4 linked regions of the Homo sapiens genome follow. The protein of the gene in region 4 purifies or fractionates together with the protein of the main gene of each other region. This does not show direct contact. Each region holds a gene or a part of one and is shown on either strand. Other genes may lie near its edges.

Region 1 (3,500 bases), on a different chromosome or scaffold from region 4:
ATGCCTGTAGTCCCAGCTACTCAGGAGGCTGAGGTGGGAGGATTGATTGACCCCAGGAGGTAGAGGCTGCAGTGAGCTGTGATCTGTGTTGCACCACTGCACTCCAGCCTGGGTGACAGAGTGAGACCCTGTCTCAAAAAAATAAAAAATAAAATAAATTAAAAAAAAAAGAGTTTTGATCCTCTAGACCCCCTGAAAGATGGGGAACCTCAGAACTTTTGCTATAAGGGGACAAGACAGCAGCTACCATTCCTGTTTACCGTATATCAGGCACTGTGTGAAGTGCTTTACTCTCCATGTGTCACTCTCAACTCTGTAAACCTGGCATTATCTCCATTTTACAGATGAGAAAATAGATTCAGGGAGGCTGAACCTCTTGCTAAAACTTACATAGCTCAAATACAGATAGGTCTGATTCCAGATAGGTTCTTTCCACCCAACCAACCTGATGTTCCAGAACAGAAGACAGAGAAACATATGTAGCCTACAGGAGTCCCAAGAAAGCACCTGCATAAGGCCCCCAGGCCTCACCTTTCGGGCTGCTGATGATGTTAGCGCTGAGTGAGGATGGGCTTTTGCTCAGGAGCACGTCCTCTTCCCCAGCCGAACTCTGCGCATCCACTTTCTTCACCTCCCTTGCCAGAATCCTGGGCTCAGAGAGCTCATCCCCCTGGGGTGTGAGTGGTTTATGCTGGCAGAGAGCCGGGTCTCTTGGTACCAAAAAAGCACTTGGATCAAAACTTTCCCGAGGAAATTTGACAATTTTCTGTGATTTTATCCACCGACCATTTACAAATTGAAATCGCTTAAGGTGAATAATCTGGAGAAGTAAAGGTAGAAAACATCTGCATTAAAGGGTTCTGAAGATACAAAATTTACATGGAAAAAACAAGTCAAATACATGTGAATGTTTGGGAATATATAACAGAACATTTACTCTTCATTATTTTTTAAAGACTTCAAAAATATGGTTTCATAAAGGCCTCTACATAGGCCCCAGTGCACTGGTGTGCTTGTGCACACACACTCAACTCAGCAGTGTGGCACAGCCACGTGACTGCGCAGTGGGTACTGCCTCCAGGCTCAGTTGCTCTTCTAGAGTCCACAAAGGCTTAGCCTAAGCTTCCACCCTCCACAGAGCCAGAAGTTCACCCTCTCCTGAAGTTCAAATTCACCACATTGTACCCCTTGTGGCAGTTCTCACATCACACTGAATTGCAGTTACTGGTCTACATGACTGCTCTGCTTGTTTTATGTGATGATTATATGAAAATATATACTTGTCAAAATTCATCAAACTGGATATTAAAAATCTATGCTTTTAATTGTATGCTAATTATACCTCAATTTTTTTTAAAAGGTCTACCCGTCAGCCGGGCGCAGTGGCTCACGCCTATAAACCCCGCGCTTTGGGAGGCCAAGGCGGGTGGCTCATGAGGTCAGGAGATCGAGACCATCCTGGCTAACACAGTGAAACCTCATCTCTACTAAAAATAAATAAATAAATAAATAAATAAAAAACACACAAAAAATTAGCCAGGCGTGGTGGTGGGCGCCTGTAGTCCTAGCTACTCAGGAGGCTGAGGCAGGAGAATGGCATGAACCCAGGAGGTGAGGCTTGCAGTGAACTGAGATGGTGCCACTGCACTCCAGCCTGGGCGACAGAGTGAGACTCCGTCTCAAAAAAAAAAAAAAAAAGTCTCCCCCTCCTCCCCACCCACCTTGTCTCCAAGCCTGCCCCTTCCCTCTAGTTCCTATCTGTGGAGCTAGCTAACAACCAATGTTATTAATTTCTTGTGCATCATTCCCTGGGAAGCTGTTCTGGTCTAAGAAAAACCTACATTCAGCTTCACAGAGTAGTATGACAGAGACATGAATAGAATAAGAAAACATGGCTGGGCACGGTGGCTCACGCCTGTAATTCCAGCACTTTGGGAGGCCAAGGTGGGCAGATCACCTGAGGTCAGGAATTCAAGACTAGCCTGGCCAACATGGTGAAACCCCATATCTACTAAAAGTACAAAAATTAGCCGGGTGGTAGTGGTGCATGCCTGTAATCTCAGCTACTCAGGAGACTGAGGCAAGAGAATCACTTGAGCCCGAGAGGTGGAGGTTGCGGTGAGCTGAGATTACACCACTGCACTACAGCCTGGGTGACACAGTGAGACCCTGTCTCAAAAAAAAAAAAAAAAAAAACATATAAATATCTGAATTAAAATATGCCAGTACCTTACAGTTACACTGATCTTAATGAATAGGAAGATTTGTCACTTCAAATTCTCCTGACAAACAACAGGACAGTCTCCTAATCCATGAAGGGAGAAGGCAGAAGTAAATTAAATCTAAAAGAACACACAGGCCCTAGTGCACTGGTGTGCTTGTGTACACACACTCAACTCAGTAGTGTGCCATAGCCACATGATTATGTGCAGTGGGTGTTGGGGGCTCCAGGCTCAGTTGCTCTTCTAGAGTCCACAAAGGGTTAGCCTAAGCTTCCTCTCTCCACAGAGCCAGAAGTTTAACCTCTCTTGAAGTTCAAATTCACCACGTTGTACCCCTTGTGGCAGTTCTCACATTGCACTGAATTGCAGTTACTGGTCTACATGATTGATCTTCTAGGTTATAAGCTCTTTAGGAAAAAGAACTACAAAATATTTGTAGAAAGATTCATCTCTGTATTCAACATAAAAAGCTTGTACAGAAAGTGTTTTAAACACTGCTGCAGGAAAGGTCTTATTCTCAAAAATAACAAAACCTCCTGTTTGTTCATGTCTTCTTTCTTTTATGCCAGATTCCTGCTCTCTCAGAGGCAGGACTGTAACATACCAGGATGGGTGGAAGCCTCCAGAGATCCAGCTTCTTTGTTGCTAAGCAGTGGGTCTTACACTTGGAACAGTAGTACATCTCATTTTCCCCTAGCTCTTCCTCACTGGTGAAAGCACGGAGACAGCTGTCCAGGTTGATGGGCTCGGCTTGCGCTCGCCGACTCTGCTCCACACTCTCATGCTCATCTACAACCTGCAGGTAGAGGGAACAGGAGGAAAGGGGTGCGTGGGAAGGCATTTAAAGTGGTGATCTAGGTATGCATCAACCTCTTGGTCACTCACCCTTATTTTACTCTATATAAGGAAAAAGAAAATACAACTGGCTGGGTATGGTGGCTCATGCCTGTAATCCCAGCACTTTAGGAGGCCGAGGTGGGGTAATTGCTTGAGTCCAGGAGTTCGAAACCAGCCTGGTCAAAAGAGTGAGACCCTGTCTCTGTAAAAGAAAAATCTAAAAATTAGCTGGGCATTGTGGTACATGTCTGTAGTCCCAGCTACTCAGGAGGATTGCTTGAGCCTGGGAGGTAGAGGTTGCAGTGAACTGTGATTACACCACTGCGCTCCAGCCTGGATGACAGAGAGAGACCCTGTCTCAAAAAAAAGGGAAAAGAAAACACAACCCAAACTAGAGTCTGAGCAAATACAGCACCTATATATTTATTCACAAATGTTACA
Region 2 (3,500 bases), on a different chromosome or scaffold from region 4:
GCAGCTGCTACAGCAGCCCAGCTCACCCAGCTGTGTGCGTCAGAAGGTGCTCAAGTGTTTCTCCAGCTGGGTGCAGCTGGAGGTGCCGCTGCAGGACTGTGAGGCGCTCATTCAGGCTGCCTTTGCTGCTCTGCAGGACTCGGAGCTCTTCGACAGCAGTGTGGAGGCCATTGTGAATGCCATCTCACAGCCTGATGCCCAGAGGTGAGCTAGTACCCACTCACCCAGAAGACAACCTCTTTGGCCAGCCACACATCCATCCATCCATCTGTTCAATAAACATTAATTGAATGTGTACTGATACCTGGTCCTATGCTGGAGATACAGCAAGGAACCAAAGAAGACATGGTCCCTGTCCTCATGGTTCAGACAGGGAGGCAGACATTAAACAACTAATTATCAGTTATTCAATTAAAATATTTGACTCTCTTTTCCTTCTCTCAACTAGTCACCAAGTCCTGGCTGTTCCCCTCCTGACCATATTGCAAATCTATTTTTTTCCATTTCCATTGCTACCACCTTAGTCCAAGCTGTCATCATCTCTCTCCCCAGATTACTGTAGAGCTTGTCCTCACTCTTGTACCCTTCATTGTCCCAGCAGCCACAGTGATCTTTTGAAAATGGGGATCTAATCTTTCTGATCAGAAGCTTTCAGTGGCTTCTCAATGCTCTTAGGTTAAAGCTCAGAATCCTTAATGTGACTCATAATGGTGCTGCACAGTATGGCATCACTGGCCTCATCTCATGCTACTCTCCTTGCTCTCTACACGCTCACACAGTTTCTTTAATTCCTTGAATGTCCCATGTTCCTTTCAGCCTCTGGCTCATTACATATACTTGACACCTTGCCTCAGCTTAAACTTCATTTCCATAGGGAAGTCCTCCATGGATTCTTAAGGCTAAGTTTGATCTTCTCTCTTATATTACCTCAGAGCTCCCAGTATTTTTCCTTCTTAGCCCATAACATGATTTCTCTCACCTCTGTGAGGACAGGGACTCTGTCATTTTACTTTGTCGCATTGTGCTCGGCACATGGTAGCATTTGATATTTTGTGAATGGAGGAAAGTAGGAGTTGCCTGAGTTGGGAGGGGTGGGGCTGGAAGGGATTGGGGGAGGAAGGTGGATTGTTCTAGGCTTTAGGAACCACAGCATGTGCAAAGACTTGTGGGCAGCATCATGATATATTCAAGGGCCCTAAAGAAGTGAGTGTAGTGAAGTGTTTGGCAAATGTTCATTGAGCATGTCCTGTTTTGGGCCCTGTGCTGAGCTCTGGGAGCACAGAGACAAATGCTTTAGCTTCAGTCTCAGGAGCTCACAGTCTAGTGGACACATGAGTGGCAAGTACAATCAACATGATGAATCCTCTGATGGAGAACGCAGGGGCCTTGAAGAACCCAGAGGAGGCTTTCACTGAGTCTGAGGGCTGTGAAAGGATTCGCAGAGGAAGTGACAACCCAGCTGTGTAAGAGTTAGCCAGATGGAAGTGATGGATGGGGAGGACATTCCAGCCCAAGCAAGGGAAGGGTGAAAGCCCAGAGGGTCTGGTGATCTGTAAATCATTAGATGTGATTAGACAGCAAGATTTAAGGGCCAGAGGTATAGGAGACCTGGGCCCAGATCATGCAGGACCTTGGCCAAGTTTAAGATTTTGATCTTCATCCTGAAGACGATATAAAGATATTAAAGGATTATAAGCAGAGAAAATGGCCTACTGAGACTTTTGGTATGAGCTGGATTAGAAGAAGTGAGACTGGAGGTCCTGATGCTGACATTTCAGAGATGGGGCTTTGGGACCTTTGGCAGAATTGGAAGGGAAAACCATTGAAAGAGACTTCATGGAAGAGTGGCTGATGACTCAAGCCTTGGCATTAGTCACATCTAAGTTTGAATCCCAGATGGTTCACTTATTAGATCTGAAATCTTGGATCAGCCATTCCTAAGGCTCCGTTTCCTCATCAATAAAATGGGGATGATCATATCAACCCCACAGAGTTGAAAAGGTTTAAACAGGATAATGTGCACAAGTCCTGCCCCTGGTGTTCGGTAGAGAATATTTTGACTCCTTGAGTAATGGGAGTTCTTTTGTGGTCTCTGCTAGGGTTGGGATGGTCAGTAGCATGCATTTGTACCTTTGGGTTATTGATACGTTACATGTTTTAAAATGGGAACTGTGTGTATATGTTCTACCTTTATACTTTATGTGATCAGTTAATGGTAATTGTTTATTTATTTATTTTGAGACAGAGTCTCACTCTGTCACCCAGGCTGGTGTGCAGTGGCACAATCTCGGCTCACTGCAACCTCCGCCTCCCGGGTTCAAGCGATTCTCTTGCCTCAGCCTCCAGAATAGCTGGGATTACAGGCGTGCATCACCACGCCCAGCTAATTTTTGTATTTTTAGTAGAAACGGGGTTTTGCCATGTTGGTCAGGCTGGTCTTGAACTCCTAACCTCAGGTGATCCATCTGCCTCCGCCTCCCAAAGTGCTGGGATTACAGGTATGAGCCACCATGCCTGGCCAACTGTTCATTTTTTTAAAGAGAAACATAGTTACTATTAAATGGATTAAGGCTGTTTACTTTTAGTACTGGTCATAAGAAGTAGAACTGGAATCATGCAATAGAAAGTGGGCCTAGTTGTTCAGTGGCTAAATTTGAAAAGGAGTTGGTTTCCTATATATATATGTGTGTGTATACATACATATATTTATATGTATATGATACACACACACACATAGATAATGTGCTTAATCACTGCCTTTTGAAACTTTAAATAAAATATTGGGTTGATTTTAAAAAATAAAAGATTGTTTCGGTATGAGGATTAAATAAGAGAATGTGAAGCTTTTAGCATGGTTCCTATATACTCTGTAAACGGCAGTTGCCAGTATTTGGTTTCATTATTGTGTTGGGAGTTATTATGATACTTATCCCCTGGCTTCCCAGGCTTTCCAGCTTAAGGTGGATACCTAATCCCAGATCTCTTGGCAGCCTGAAGCTCAAGTGCTGGGTGGGCTCTGACAGTTGGTGACTAAGGGAAACAGATCAGGGCAAGTGTGTGGGTGATGTGAGGTGTCCTTGGATACACCCAAGTTTACCCGCCCAGCCAGTCTCAAGGGCTTTGGCAGGTAATTGATGCCCCTTCTCCTCTGAACGAATGAGCGAGCAAGGAGCCAGTGAGGTAACCCACAGCCTCCTTGGTGCCCATTGGCTGCAGCCCCTTGGTTGCTTAGCAACTCTCCCCATTTTCTCAGCTCTGCTCCTGAAGCAAAGCTCTAATTGCAGGTCTGGGCTGAGCTCCGTGTGAGCAGCAGCAGAGGAGTCCCAGCAGCCCTGCCTCGGCTACTTGAACTGACCGATTGGAGCCAGGCCTCTTGAACCCAGCCTCAGCTGTGGTCATAAAGACATCCTCCCTGTCTCCTTCCCCCAAACCTAGAAACCTCTGGGACCTCAGACTTGTTCTTCTGTCCACTCACAGGTCGCAGACACAGGTGCTCAGGT
Region 3 (3,500 bases), on a different chromosome or scaffold from region 4:
CAAAAAAAAAATCAGGAGAAATGCCTGCTAATTAATTCAAAAAAATAATTCATCCCTGCCCTTGAGGAACATCTAGTCTTGTGGGAAAGATTGGTAAACATAATTATAATTGAATGTGTACAGTGCTTAAATAGAGGAATATTAAAAAGTGCTAAGGAAACAATGTCCCCTGAGTGAAAAGAATGCTTTAAAGAGAACATCTGAGCTGAGTCTTGAAGGATGAATAGAAGTTTGACCCATTTCACGTTAAGAGGCTGTGCTAATAACAATCACAAAACATAAAAGATGCAATACCTGTATTTTCCCATTCTTGTAAAGGTGAATTCACAGTTCATGTTACAGTCTAAGACATTAAGACTTTTTTTTTTTTTTTTTTTAGAGACAGGGTCCTGGTCTGCCACCCAGGCTGGAGTGCAGTGGCATGATCCCAGCTCACTGCAGCCTTGACCTCCAGGGCTCAGGGGATCCTACCACCTCAGCCTTCCAGGTAGCTGGAACTACAGGCATGCGCCACCATGCCTGGCTAATTTTTGTATTTTTTTGTAGAGACAGGGTTTTGCCATGTTGCCCAGGCTGGTCTCAAATTTCTGGGCTCAAGCAATCTGCCCACCTCAGCCTCCCAAAGTGCTGGGATTACAGGTGTGAGCCACCGCACACGGCCTGACATTAAGACCTTTTAAATAAGAATGATTTTTTTTAAAACAAGATACATAATCTTAGCATCCTGATCCATGTTTATAGTCTCTCCCAGTGATCAACTGAAGGCACTTTCCACATGTCTAAACATTTTATAATCTAAAGTGTTAAGAGTATTATTTCAAAAGATGATTAAAAGATAACCATCCTCATCTGTCCTACTGCCCAAATTATATTGTTAACACATTTCCTGATTCATAATATTGAAATTATATATGTATTCCCTCTCTCCTGAGACTAATGGTGACCAAGCCCAGAAGATGCAAGTGACAACAGAAGCTACCATGGGAAGAAAGGTTTTAAAAGTTTGTTTTTTAATCATATCACTGTTTTCTCTTGTAGTTATTCTTAAATTATCTTCCAAGGGCAAATTTAAATGAAAATTAACTTTTTTCCAAACTGTAGTGATAAATAATCTTCAGTAAAACACAATAAAGAATATAATATATATCTTTTCTGATCTTACAAGGTGTTTTAGGGCTACATTCCGATTTCACAGAATTTAAGATACCGCTAAAACAAAAATTTTCTGGTTTTTAATCACGAAACTTTGATGTTAACTAACCAAGGCCCAAATAGGTAGTAAATTCAAAACAGTCCCTGCTCTTGAGGAACTCCTGGTCTTGTGGGAGAGACTGCTAAACATAATTATAATTGAATGTGTACAGTGTCTGAAGACAACTTGTATTAGAGCTATATTTCCTTATTTCTCAGTATGTCTTTTTGTCCCTTTCTAGAATTCCATAATTTCCACCTTATTATTCCTTTTCTCAATTATTATCTGGAAAAATTAATTTTATATTAATATCTTAAACTGGGACCCTATTCCTATAGTTAAAACTCTAGTTGAAAGTAGCATCATCTGACTTTAATTGCCTGGAAGGGCAAGCTGTGGAAAATCCTATCATGTCCTACCAATAGGAGGAAAAAGAGGTGAAAGTCAAGCCAGGAGACCACAAATGGCAATTACAAAATCATGGCAAGTTTGAATTCAAAATGAGTGTTTTTGTTTGTGTATTTTACCCGTCTTTTGTTTCTCTAAACTTAGCATCCACATAATATAGCTGTTTTTATAGAGGCTTCACTCAAATCATAACCTTTTGACTTAAAAAACATTAATATTTGTGGTAATTCTTTTAAAATTAGTTGAGTATTAGCATGATAAAATTAAAGGTTTAACAATAATAATGGAACAATTAAGGAAACTACCTCCTAAAAGTTTATCTTTTAGAGTACAGTTTTGTACAAATAATACAGAATACATTTGGTTAGGTAACAAGGTTTTAATTACCTGACTATTAGAAAAATAATAAAAATCTTGAAAGATAAGATTTTATCAATTTAACCATGTCTTTATCTTACCTTTTAAACAACTAAATAACACAAACCTCACTGAAACATTTGACCTGTTTTCTTTTTCTAAAATTACAACTATTTTGCAATATGCTCAATTTTTCCAAAGCAAAACCCACAAACATACATATAGAATATAAATGCTTAAATTCGCTTGATGAAAGTTCAATCACAAAACCCTCCAACTAATACTAAAATAATTAAATATCTTGCACGCTTACTCCAAATTCCACCGTGAAAATGATGTCTTTTCATAACTCCTATAATAGCATTTTAATCAAGGTTAGTAACAGACTGGAAAATTTGTGAAAAGAACATTACTTTAAAAATCAACATGAAAGATTTCACAACTTTTTTAGCCAGTCAGCTTCAAAGACACAATTTGATTCAATAAGCGTTACTGGCATATTATTTCCAATCTACGTGAAAAAACGCTTGGTTTAATAATGTACTTTAGGCTTTCTGTATCTTTTTGGTAAGGAAAGAAAGGAACAGGTGGAGTAGATTAGCCAGAGACCAAGGTCTTATTTTCACGCCTCTATAAATTCAATCCTCCAAGACTTACTTTCTCTGTTCTTTAAAATGGCTACCACCTTGATCTACCATGCAAAAGAAAAAATGTTCAGCATACTATCAAGATAAGTCTGGTTATTTTGATAGTTTATGTCCTCCTTTCCCACAAAATAAGATTCCCATTCCTTTACTGTTCAGATAAAATGACCATTAAATAAGTACGCAAAAGTTGGTCAGTTGGAGTATGAGGGCAACCTATATAACCCAGATTAAGTCATCTTTCCTACCATATCTGACTAGGAAAAGTAGGCAACAATATCTTTCACAGACTAAGATCAAACACAGTAGAAATGAAAAAGGGATGTCTAGTAAAGGAGAACAAACGTGGGAACCACAACCCCCCAAGAGATTATTTTAGCAGCTCAAAATAGATTAACTATTATGTGGGTTAGCAAAAATTAAGCTTTCCATAATATTTCTAAAAAGCATTTTAGAGATAATAAAACCACTTGGCGCCCCCAAACCTGTTTTTAATGTGAACACATGCTCAACAACTATTCTGAAAATATTGTTTACATATTACTATTATTTCCTACTCCCTCTGAAACCATTCCATAACTCTTGCTCTATAAAACTTCCCATAAAAATGCATTTTTCACATACAAAACACAATATACAATGTTTTAGAGTCATTTTGTGCATACATATAGCTACTAAATAGATTAACTTCAAATCTGTTGAATGTCTCCAGAAATATGACATGATCTTACCTCTCATCCTCGCCATCCACCAGGGGTGTCGTCAGCGGTAGCACCTTCAACGGGAAAAGAGAAGCAGAGGCTGCTAGGCTGCTGCTACTCCCATCTGAAACTGCTGACATTCCCCCACTGTCACCACTGATAGTCTGAGGTAAGCCAACTAAGGAGGGCTCCGCTGCA
Region 4 (3,500 bases):
CCGTTTCCCCTGTACAACCCATTCATTTTTAGCACCATGTTAATTAAAAATAGTGAAAAATTTTAAATTGATGTTACTTTTATCAATTAAAATAGTAGCTACTAATTTTCTGGCTATCTTCATCCTTAATCAACTATTTAACTTGACAATTTTAAGTTACTCAAACCAAACTGACAACTCCTATTGAACCTTCAATATCATGTTGGAAATCCTACTTAGCACTTTTCGGTGTAGTTAAATGCAGTCTTTATTGCTTTCAACTGCTGATTTATTTATTCCAATGTGCTTCCTTGCTTCAATTTTCACTTCAGATTAGTTTCCAGTCTATTACAGTAATCTGTTATCCATGGTGGTTGCCTCTGGGGAAAAGATTATTCTGAATAGCCAAAGTTTCTACCTAGCTCATTATTTACTCATTTTAAGAACAAAGCTTTTATTTTAAATATTGGTAGAAATGTCTCCTTCATAGCCTTTTAGATTTTTTTAATGACCTATGATTAGTTTTTTTTCTTTTTTGAGACTGAGTCTTGCTCTGTTGCCCAGGGTGGAGTGCAGTGGCACGATCTCGGCTCACTGCAACCTCCATTTGGCACACACCACCGTGCCTAATTTTTTTGTATTCTTTAGTAGAGACAGGGTTTCACTCCTGACCTCACGTGATCCACCCACCTCAGCCTCCCAAACTGCTGGGATTACAGGTGTGAGCCACTGTGCCAGCTTATGATTAGCTTTTTTTTTTTTTTTTGAGATGGAGTTTCGTTCTTGTTGCCCAGGCTGGAGTGCAATGGCGTAGTCTTGGTTCACTGCAACCTCTGCCTCCCAGGTTCAAGTGATTCTCCTGCCTCAGCCTCCCAAATACCTGGGATTAGAAGTGCCTGCCACCATGCCTGGCTAATTTTTTTTGTATTTTTAGTAGAGATGGGGTTTCACCATCTTGACCAGGCTGGTCTCGAACTCCTGACCTCAGGTGATCCACCTGCCTCCCAGTGTTGGGATTACAGGCATGAGCTACCACACCTGGCCCTATGATTAGCACCTTTTAACATCACTGCAGCACAAAACTGAATTACCCTCAGGGTCTTCTTAATATCTTCTAAGCTTCAGATCTGCCTTCATTTACATACCTTATATCCCCTAGGCTTCCTTTTAAAACTCTACCCTCTTTTTATAATTCCTTTAAATGGTATCCCAAAGGCAAGATCTAGCCTGATAGTGTATGAGTAAGGGGATAGGAAAAAAAAAAAAAGGATTCATTTTCATTATCACAGGGATCAAAGGCTCCTTTCCTCCTTTTCAGTCATCTCCGTGAATAGCCCTTTTATCACAATGAGGCATTAACAAATGCTATTTCATTTTAGCCACAATAACAAAGTATACTTTCTTCACTGAACTATTTTGAATTGCAATAAACTTTACTCACAGATAAAATAAGGGCCTGAAGCATAGTGTAAGCATACAAGTCTCTAATTAGTGTCAATTACAATAAACTTAAAAGTCTATGCCCATCCTAACACCCATATAAAATCTTACTTTCACTTCTGGGTTTTTCATGTGCATTATGCTCCCTTTGATAAAAGTACCTCTCATTCAACACCTTGCTACTCAAGGGGAGTCAGTGGCAGTTAAGGTCCTCAACAAAAATGCAACTCCGGAGGGGGTGGTGTGCTTAGTTTAGAAAGTGAATTCATCCCTATAAGCCTCACCTTCATTGAGAAGACTCAACTGTCATCTGACATAGAAGAAAATCTTAGCTAAATAAAAGAAAATTTAGATTGGACTTAAACCTTCTTTTTGTACTCCATTACTTCTTAACTGAATAAACTCCTAAGTAATGAGCTTTATTATATATAAGGTTCAATAAGCTCAAGGTTCAAGATACTCACTATATATCTGAATAATACAATATAAACACTAAAGTAATTAATCGTTCAAAAATTAGTTGTTGTTTTTTTTTTTAAAAAAAAAAGAGAAATCATGTAACCGCCAAACAGGTTCACCTTGCCCGCTGGCTAGACAGAGCTGATTTACCAAGACAGGGGAATTGCAATAGAGAAAGAGCAATTCACCCAAAGCCAGCTGTGTGGGAGACCAGGATTTTTATTATTAGTCAAATCAGTCTCTTGGAGCATTCAGGGATCAGTTTTTAAGGATAATTTGGTGGGTGGGGGAAGGCCAGAGAACAGAGTGCTGATTGGTTGGGTTGGAGATGAAATGGGAAGTTGAAGCTGTCCTCTTGTGCTGAGTCAGTTCCTAGGTAGGGGACATAAGATCAGACGAGCCAGTTTATTGATCTGGGTGGTGCCAGTTGGTCTATCAAGTGCAGGGTCTGCAAAATATCTCAAGCACTGATCTTAGGAGCATTTTAGGGAGGGTTAGAATCTTATAACTTCCGTCCCTCTCCCTCTCCCTCTCCCTCTCCGTCTCCCTCTCCGTCTCCCTCTCCCTCTCCCTCCTTCTCCGTCTCCGTCTCCGTCTCCGTCTCCGTCTCCCTCTCCCCACGGTCTCCCTCTCATGCGGAGCCGAAGCTGGACTGTACTGCTGCCATCTCGGCTCACTGCAACCTCCCTGCCTGATTCTCCTGCCTCAGCCTGCCGAGTGCCTGCGATTGCAGGCACGCGCCGCCACGCCTGACTGGTTTTGGTGGAGACGGGGTTTCGCTGTGTTGGCCGGGCCGGTCTCCAGCCCCTAACCGCGAGTGATCCGCCAACCTCGGCCTCCCGAGGTGCCGGGATTGCAGACGGAGTCTCGTTCACTCAGTGCTCAGTGGTGCCCAGGCTGGAGTGCAGTGGCGTGATCTCGGCTCACTACAACCTCCACCTCCCAGCCGCCTGCCTTGGCCTCCCAAAGTGCCGAGATTGCAGCCTCTGCCCGGCCGCCACCCCGTCTGGGAAGTGAGGAGTGTCTCTGCCTGGCCGCCCATCGTCTGGGATGTGAGGAGCCCCTCTGCCCGGCCGCCCAGTCTGGGAAGTGAGGAGCGTCTCCGCCCGGCCGCCATCCCATCTAGGAAGTGAGGAGCGCCTCTTCCCAGCCGCCATCACATCTAGGAAGTGAGGAGCGTCTCTGCCCGGCCGCCCATCGTCTGAGATGTGGGGAGCGCCTCTGCCCCACCGCCCCATCTGGGATGTGAGGAGCGCCTCTGCCCGGCCGAGACCCCGTCTGGGAGGTGAGGAGCGTCTCTGCCCGGCCGCCCCGTCTGAGAAGTGAGGAGACCCTCTGCCTGGCAACCACCCCGTCTGAGAAGTGAGGAGCCCCTCCGCCCGGCAGCTGCCCCGTCTGAGAAGTGAGGAGCCTCTCCGCCCAGCAGCCACCCCATCTGGGAAGTGAGGAGCATCTCCGCCCGGCAGCCACCCCGTCCGGGAGGGAGGTGAGGGGGGGTCAGCCCCCCGCCCGGCCAGCCGCCCCATCCGGGAGGGAGGTGGGGGGTCAGCCCCCCGCCCGGCCAGCCGTGCCATCCGGGAGGGAGGTGGGGGGGTCAGCCCCCCGCCCGGCCAGCCGCCCGG

The links.
Region 1: the proteins of HIGD1A (region 4) and USP32 purify together in Homo sapiens (co-immunoprecipitation; one large-scale study listed by IntAct). This does not show direct contact.
Region 2: the proteins of HIGD1A (region 4) and IPO13 purify together in Homo sapiens (affinity purification with mass spectrometry; 2 studies listed by BioGRID and IntAct, with this or other methods). This does not show direct contact.
Region 3: the proteins of HIGD1A (region 4) and TSC22D1 purify together in Homo sapiens (co-immunoprecipitation; one large-scale study listed by IntAct). This does not show direct contact.

The regions. Positions count from the first base shown.
Region 1 is NC_000017.11:60,182,634-60,186,133, forward strand, and holds part of USP32 (ubiquitin carboxyl-terminal hydrolase 32), read right to left. Parts: intron 3,019-3,500; coding exon 2,827-3,018; intron 821-2,826; coding exon 532-820; intron 1-531. UniProt on the Homo sapiens protein: Deubiquitinase that can remove conjugated ubiquitin from target proteins, such as RAB7A and LAMTOR1.
Region 2 is NC_000001.11:43,949,950-43,953,449, forward strand, and holds part of IPO13 (importin-13), read left to right. Parts: coding exon 1-204; intron 205-3,500. UniProt on the Homo sapiens protein: Functions in nuclear protein import as nuclear transport receptor. Serves as receptor for nuclear localization signals (NLS) in cargo substrates.
Region 3 is NC_000013.11:44,569,831-44,573,330, forward strand, and holds part of TSC22D1 (TSC22 domain family protein 1), read right to left. Parts: coding exon 3,333-3,500; intron 1-3,332. UniProt on the Homo sapiens protein: Transcriptional repressor. Acts on the C-type natriuretic peptide (CNP) promoter. Acts to promote CASP3-mediated apoptosis.
Region 4 is NC_000003.12:42,794,491-42,797,990, forward strand, and holds part of HIGD1A (HIG1 domain family member 1A, mitochondrial), read right to left. Parts: intron 1-3,500. UniProt on the Homo sapiens protein: Proposed subunit of cytochrome c oxidase (COX, complex IV), which is the terminal component of the mitochondrial respiratory chain that catalyzes the reduction of oxygen to water. May play a role in the assembly of respiratory supercomplexes.